Homo sapiens: one gene and its partner. The protein of the gene in region 2 purifies or fractionates together with the protein of the main gene of each other region. This does not show direct contact. Each region holds a gene or a part of one and is shown on either strand. Other genes may lie near its edges. The genes, in order: C9orf40 and TRAPPC10.

Evidence for each region.
Region 1: the proteins of TRAPPC10 (region 2) and C9orf40 purify together in Homo sapiens (co-immunoprecipitation; one large-scale study listed by IntAct). This does not show direct contact.

What each region holds. Positions count from the first base shown.
Region 1 is NC_000009.12:74,945,766-74,949,912, reverse strand, and holds the end of C9orf40 (uncharacterized protein C9orf40), read left to right. Parts: intron 1-1,706; coding exon 1,707-1,865; 3' UTR 1,866-3,330; downstream 3,331-4,147.
Region 2 is NC_000021.9:44,088,769-44,092,585, reverse strand, and holds part of TRAPPC10 (trafficking protein particle complex subunit 10), read right to left. Parts: intron 2,754-3,817; coding exon 2,653-2,753; intron 664-2,652; coding exon 537-663; intron 1-536. UniProt on the Homo sapiens protein: Specific subunit of the TRAPP (transport protein particle) II complex, a highly conserved vesicle tethering complex that functions in late Golgi trafficking as a membrane tether.

The DNA of each region.
Region 1 (4,147 bases), on a different chromosome or scaffold from region 2:
TGGGATTACAGGCGTGAGCCACTGTCAGGCCCTCTTTTGAGGAAAGCCCAGTAACACTCCTATTCCTTCTTTTTGTTAGATTTGTTCTGGAGGCGCTTCTCTTTTACAATCATGCTCTCTCCAGCTTCTGTTTCTCCTTCCTGCCTCCAAAGACACAGGCTTTTTGTTTTAAGGATTTTATACCTGATTACCAAGGGAAAATTGAATATAACAAAAAGAAGTAAACAGTTCAATACAGTAAATGCCTGGTTTCTTTTGTGCTCAGAATAGGGCTTAAGTCCCAGCCCTCACCCTTGGGACTTCATTTAGGAAATACTACCTCAAATACCTTTTTTCTACATTGAGAATACAATCTAGGCAGGATAATGTTACGTCATTTCTGTCCCGGAACTTCAGGGTATTTCCTGTTTCAGATGTTTTTTGACTACAGAAATAAAATCAGGTATTCATTAAATATTCATGTATTTTTTTCATGTTAGTGTCACTATGTAGATTCACTGCTCTGTCAGTGTTAACTGTTAGTTTCTTGTTTATTTGTTTGTTTTTCATAAATTGAGATGGAGTCTTGCTTTGTTGCCAGGGCTGGTCTCAAACTCTGGGGCTCAAGCGATCCTTCTGCCTCCCAAAGTGCTGGGATTACAGGTGTAATCATGCCCAGCCAACTGTTAGATATTCTTAACAGAAAGTAAGCAGAAATGCTCTAAGGAGACAGTGATTAATGATTCATAGGCTTATTGGGATATAATACCTAGCAATATTGAGCAATTACTATGCCAAGCCTGAATTTTTACAACAGTCCTCCATTTTATCAATAAGGTCAAGATCAGAGTTAGTGGGCGGTGGAGTTATCTTGCAAACCCAGGTCTGTCTGGTGGCAAAGTTTGTGTGCCCTTAGTCACTATGTTTTACTAACATAATTAAAAGACCTTTTTTTGGTCCATGTTTATAAGTAGATAATTTGTACAGTAGATTTTCCAAAATATTAAAGTGAAATTTTTCTTAATATCTTTTGACTTATTGTGTGTTTATCCCAATATTAAGAAATTCCCCCAAAACTTAATTCTTTAAGGCTCAGCATAGAAGACAGTGAACTTCCTAATGAGACTTTCTTACAGACCTGTGCTGTCCAGCACAGTAGCCACTAGGTCATGTGGCTACTGAGCATTGATTTTTTTTTTATCTTTAATAAAATGATCAGTTTAACATTTTCTTGCTATTCGTCATGTTTATAACCTAATACTTTTTGGAAGATTTCAAAATATTTTGGCCTATGTAAAGTAAATCTCCTAAAATACCAGACCTTAAGAACAAGACCAAAAGTAAGTTATAAGGAGTGTGTCTGTGTTTGTATTTTTAAAATAAATTCTTCTTTTCCTTCTTGAAAGATAAAAAATTTTAAGACTTTTTAGATAATTTTCTTTAGGTGAAAAATGGGAGAAAAACTGTGGAAAGAGATGCTCTTGGAGGAAATTCCTTTAAATTTAACAAATACTTTCACAAATTGTAAATATTAAAATGCACAGATTTCATCGAGTACATGAAGTACTTAGATGAGACAAAATTTAAAATGTATATTTGTTAAAAATACAAAATAGAAGATTACAAAATCTTATATGAGTTTGCCTTTAAAACAAATTTGTTTTCTGAAAAAAACTTAATTTTTTCTAAGCTATTGATGCTCTTTGATCTCTCTTTTTTCTCTAAAGCACAATGAAGAATTTTGGCAGTATAATACCTTCCAGTACTGGAGGAATCCTTTGCCTCCTATTGATCTGGCAGACATTGAAGATTTAAGTGAAGACACCCTGACAGAAGCAACACTTCAGGGCAGGAATGAAGGGGCTGAGGTTGACATGGAGTCCTGATGTAAGGAGCCGAAGCAGTGGGATTGGCTGATTTGAGGAGATGTCTCTAAGTGAATTCTCGTATTCTTAAGGGAAAAGTTATTTTCCATACTTGAAGTTATATTTCCAAACCTGAGAAATGAAGAAAGATTGTTCTGACATTAAATACCTACAGTTACTACTGAACCTCTTAATAAGGATTTGTCAAGGATAGAGTACAGTTGTAGGGGAAGTATTTTATGTATGCATTCTTAGAGCAAAAAGTTTTGTTTAAATTCTAGAATTGAAGGTACTGATCTTATAAAAAGAAATTCTAGCAGTTTTAGAAATAGGTGGGAAAAACTCAAATATTCCTCCTATCTGCACCAAAAAGTTTATTTGTGGTATATAAAATGAATATTGTTTTATAATAACTTGTTAATAAAGTACTTTCTAATACATTCTATTGACTCTGTTAGTTGAACAAATAGCTGACTTGAACATCTATGCAAACTTAAGATGGGCGGGATTGTTGTAAAAGCTATTGTTTTAAAAGAGCTTTCTAAATGTAAAGTAGTGATAATTTCAATTTGGGTAGCGTGTTTGCAAAGCTTCCAATATTTGATGTTGGTTAAGCTCTACTATGGGCAACTGAAGATGGATAAAGAAAAATGAAAACTGAATCGGTGCCTGCTTCCCCCTGTTTTCCCAGGATTAGAGGAAAAAATTTATTGTATAATCAGCTTCTTGGTTTTGAATTGCTTCGAGGCATGGTTTTATTCCTTATTACTTTAGACCTGTAGTTTTCAACACTGACAGCACTTTAAAAATCTTTGCCTGGGCCTCACTCTTGAGAGATTCTCATTTAATAGTTCTGAGGTGGGTCTTGGATATAACTATTTTTTTAAACACCTGTCCTGTTTCCCTCCATTCCTCTCATGTGCAGACAGGGTTGAGAACCAGTAGACTAATGGTCGTTTTTCCTGTTTAAAGGAGATAACTAATTTGAGCTGAAGCAATGCTTCTTAATTAGCTTTGTTTTTGTTTTGCTCTGTTGGTGGCTTTGTTACAACTGAATTATTGTGTTATTACTATTTCATTGTTAAAGAAATAAAGTAAGCAATTTGTGATGTGAGTATCAGTGATTAAGTTAACTAACTTTTGTACTGCATCCAGAATGTTGGTTTTGCAATTGAGTAACTGGTTCTTGCTTGCATTTTTTGTTGTTGATGACATTAGATCCAAAATTCAAGACAAATGGTAAATGCCATTGAGAGGGAAAGAGAAAAACTTGATTTTTTTTGTGTAATGAAGGATTTAAGAATGGGTTGACATTAATAAGAATGCTTTAGAACAGAAGACAAACTGTATTGCATTGTGGTCAGACATGGTTCAAAGTCTTGTACTGCCACTTCCTACCTATGTATCTTTAAGCCAGTTATTTTTCATCTCCAAGCCTCAAATTTCTCACCTGTAAAATGAGAAATAATAAATAGTATCTACCTCAGAGAGACTGTTTATTGTCAAGCAATGTTATAAGTACTTTACTTGCATCATCTTGTTTAGTTCTCATAATAACCTTAAGGTAGGTTAAAAAAAATCATTAGAATAAACATGCTGCCTATAGTTAAAGTTTTAACTGCCTCTAGAAGTTTCAGGATAGAAATTGGAATTGAAACTTTCAGCTTATGATATTTTCAACTTACGATGGGTTTATCAGGACATAACCCCATGGTTAGTTAAATGTACTAAATTTATATCACTTTCACACTGTGGTAAAGCTGAAAAATCCTGTCAAACCATCAAGTCAGGGGCAGTCTATATATAGAAAACAGAAAGAGTTAAAATAATTCCGTCCTTTAAAAAAGTTGTTTACTAAGTAAACTTGAGGTAACAGCAAAATTTCATTGTGGATAAATTGAGGTAAAATGTGGGTTTTTAAATGTGTTATAACCCTTCACCCCAATTCCCTAATGTAACATCTTAAATTACCACAGTACACTTATGAAAATCAGGAAATTAACATTGATAAAATTCTCTTGTGTGATTTTGAGGACATGGAAAGAATGACTTCAGACAACTCTTAGAGGATATATGTCAAAAACCTAAAACAATTATAAAATGTATGGACTATTCGACTTTCACCATTGTCCTATTCTTTTTCTAGCCCAGCGTCAAATTCAGGTTCACATGTTATATTTAGTTATAATATCTCCTTAGTCGTCTTTAATCTAAAAACAGAATTTCTTTGCTTTTCATGACCTAGGTACCTTTTGAAGAGCACTGCTCAGGTATTTCATAGGATAGCCCTCGATTTTGGTTTG
Region 2 (3,817 bases):
GACATCCATTAAGGAAGCCTTTGATCTCTAAACACTCAGCATTTACTGCCTAAAAACACACGTGAAAGATAAACGGAAAAAGCAAGTTCAAGATTCATCCAGGCAGCGAGCCATAAACAGAAAAAGCAAGGTCCAGATGCAGGCACAAGCATGGCTCTTTTACAAAGGCACCAAGGTGTCGGGCACCATCGCTCTGGCACTGGCAGGCATCAGGCTCTGGGCAGAGTGGAGCAGTGCCCATGCAATCAACAGTGCGTTCAAACAGAAGCTTGGATCTGCACACGTCTACGCATAGAGTGGGACCAGTTTCAGATTTAATTCTTCTAAAAAGAAGAATTCATCCATCCAGCCACCCGCTTACTCAGGAGCAAGCCTCGATCCAGCCTCAGGGCAGCCGGAGGAGCTGCACAGGAGCCTTTACTCATCAGCAGTGCAGCTGTTCTATCTAAAGGCTCAGTCGCAACACATACTACATCATTTCCGTACACTCTGGTTCTCTGTTGAGAAGTTTATGCTCAGGTCTACACAATGTTTACCTGCTGGGACTGCGTGTTCAGTGGTACTAGTTGCAGGTCGGTACTATCACCGGTATCTACAAGATAACTATCTGACAGCTGAAAGTCAAGTTCTGACAAATTCTGGACACAAACTTGAACATATTTCCTAAAGTGGAAAAACAAAAAGTATTATTTTGATATGTAAGAACTTTATTAAATATATCTTAGCTTTGTTAAGGAGACCCTCTCTGCCTGGGGAATCAAAAAAGCAACAAAGCAAAGTAAGCTAAGTTGTTGCATAAGTTTCCCTTCAGATTTCACACCGAAAAGTGCCAGAAAATAAACCTTTTTGGCCGGGCACGGTGGCTCACGCCTGTAATCCCAGCACTTTGGGAGGCCGAGGTGGGCAGATTATGAGGTCAGGAGATTGAGACCATCCTGGCCAACATGGTGAAACCCCATCTCTACTAAAAATATAAAAATTAGCCAGACGTGGTGGCACGTGTCTGTAATCCCAGCTGCTCGGGAGGCTGAGGCACGAGCATTGCTTGAACCTGGGAGGTGGAGGTTGCAGTGAGCTGAGATCACGCCACTGCACTCCAGCCTGGTGACAGGGCGAGACTCCATCTCAAAAAAATAACAAATAAAAATAAATAAAAAAAGTTTTTAAAGAGGCAAGTTCTGTGAGGCAATGGAAGAAAGAATATAGTTTCTGACCAGCCTTATTAAGTGATCATGGCTGGTCACCCTCACTGGCCTTTGGGGAGCCACGGGGAGACAGCAGCAGCCCTCCTCATTACAGGTGAAGACTCTCCATTGAGAGATGATAGGCGGGGCTTATATCCATTTCCATTACATGCAAAACTTTGAAAATATTAATAATAGTTACTATTTTTTGAGACAGAGTCTTGCTCTTGTCGCCCAGGCTGGGGTGCAATGGCACGATCTCAGCTCACTGCAACCTCTGCCTCCCAGGTTCAAGTGATTCTCCTGCCTCAGCCTCCCGAGTAGCTGGGATTACAGGCGCCCGCCACCATGCCCGGCTAATTTTTGTATTTTTAGTAGAGACGGGGTTTCACTATGTTGGTCAGGCTGGTCTTGAACTCCCGACCTCGTGATCCGCCTGCCTCGGCCTCCCAAAGTGCTGGGATTACAGGCATGAGCCACCACGCCCGGCTGAAAAATAATTTTTTAATAAGGTTCTTTTAGAGATTATTGATGTTTTTAACTATTAATATCTACAGTTCCCTTTGCTGTGATTTGAAGGGGAAAAAAGCTGCTAGTATAATGTTCCATTCTAAACATGGGTCTGACGTTTTTGTTTCCAAATTATCCACACATCATCAATGGATAAAAAGTTGTGGTGAGAGGCCAGGCTAGCATCCCGAGCCCATTGATCAACGCTAGCACCGTCACTAAGGTAGGACACCTGGACACCGTGGGCCTCCCGGTGCAGTCAACAGGAAGCACACAGCCCCGCCTGCCTCAAAGCAGAACTGGAGTCTACTCAAGCCTTTAGGGCAGCTGTTTTCCACTGGGGCACGTCCGCCCCACCCAGAGGACACTGGGCAGTGTCTACAGACATCTGTGGCTGCCACACCTGCAGGTGGGGAGTGCTACTGGCATCTCATGGGAGAGCCTGGGGTGCTGCTCAACACCCTACAGCACACAGGAAAGCCCCTACAACAGAGTTATCTAGCCCAAAATGTCACTAATGCTGAGCTTAAAAGCTCCTGTTCTAGAGGTTGCAGGCAATTGACAAGAAATACAGGGACAGGAGAACTAGTTAACAAATCCAGCCAGATCCAGAAAGGCGGGCGTCCAGAGGAAACCTGGCCTGCAAGTGAACAAGTCGATGGCTTGAAAACAGGGAAGAAAGGATGAACAGAGATCTAGTGGTCTGATGGAGATTTTGGACCCCAAGTCACACAAAGCAACCATAAAAGGTCATTTTCAGACAGTTGGGAAAACCTGAATATGAACTGGATGTCACAGGACACCAGGGAATTGTGGATTTTAAGACACAAACAATGGCCTTGTGGTCACATAAGAAGACATCCTTGGTCACCACGAAGGCCAGTTTTGAACATTAGGAACCTCCACTTAGAAGAGTCTGGGGAAAGAAGCCAGGGCCCGCACGCTACGCCTCCGTTACCGTGTTCCTGAGGACAGGAGGCTGTGTGTGGTCCTGAAGGGTACGCTGAAGGTCAGTGCGATGACTGTGGAGTAGATGGACCACGGGCAGTCAATCGACACCTGAGGAGGAAGCACAAAGACACTCTCAGACCACTCGCCGACGGACAGCACAGCCACCACCACTGCTGCCCAGACTCACCTGCAGTGCCCGCCCACGCCCTAGACATTTTATTATGGCTTCAACCACTCATTATCCAGGAAGCAAAGCCTTACCCAACACATACACAAACCAACGAGAAACAGGAAGCTATGCATACAGACAAGAGAAACGAACGCAGAACTGGCAAGACATGCACACATCACCAGAGTCACCTCAACGGCGGAAGAGCACAGCCGTCCTCTAAGCAGCAGACCCACCTGCTGCTCCCATACACGCAGGGCCGCGGAGCCATGCATGTTGCAATGTGCACAGGGTTTTGACAAAGTGCTTTCAGTCATGTATTTCCAGATGACATTAGCCAATCAGTAACTACTCCATAGTTAATGAATTATCTAAGCATTTAATCCATGTGAGGCTGAATATGTAACTGAAAACCAAATCAGTTTAGGGGCACAGTGAGGACAAAGCTATTACATCCCTTAAGGGCAGGAAGGAAGCAAGTCTCAAGCCTTATTCCCCACAGGGAAGAGGTGAATACCCCAGCACACAGCGTGCGTGCCGCCAGTGCCAGGGAAGAGAGGATAACACGGCACATAGCACAGGTGCCACCAGCGCCAGGGAAGAGAGGATAACACAGCACACAGCACAGGTGCCACCAGCGCCAGGGAAGAGAGGATAACACGGCACATAGCACAGGTGCCACCAGCGCCAGGGAAGAGAGGATAACACGGCACATAGCACAGGTGCCACCAGCGCCAGGGAAGAGCGGGGTAACACGGCACACAGCACAGGTGCCGCCAGTGCCAGGGAAAAGAGGATAACACGGCACACAGCACAGGTGCCGCCAGCGCCAGAGAAGAGTGGGATAACACGGCACACAGCACAGGTGCCGCCAGCGCCAGGGAAGAGAGGATAACACGGCACATAGCACAGGTGCCGCCAGTGTCAGGGAAGAGTGGGATAACATGGCACACAGCACAGGTGCCGCCAGCGCCAGGGAAGAGTGGGATAACACGGCACACAG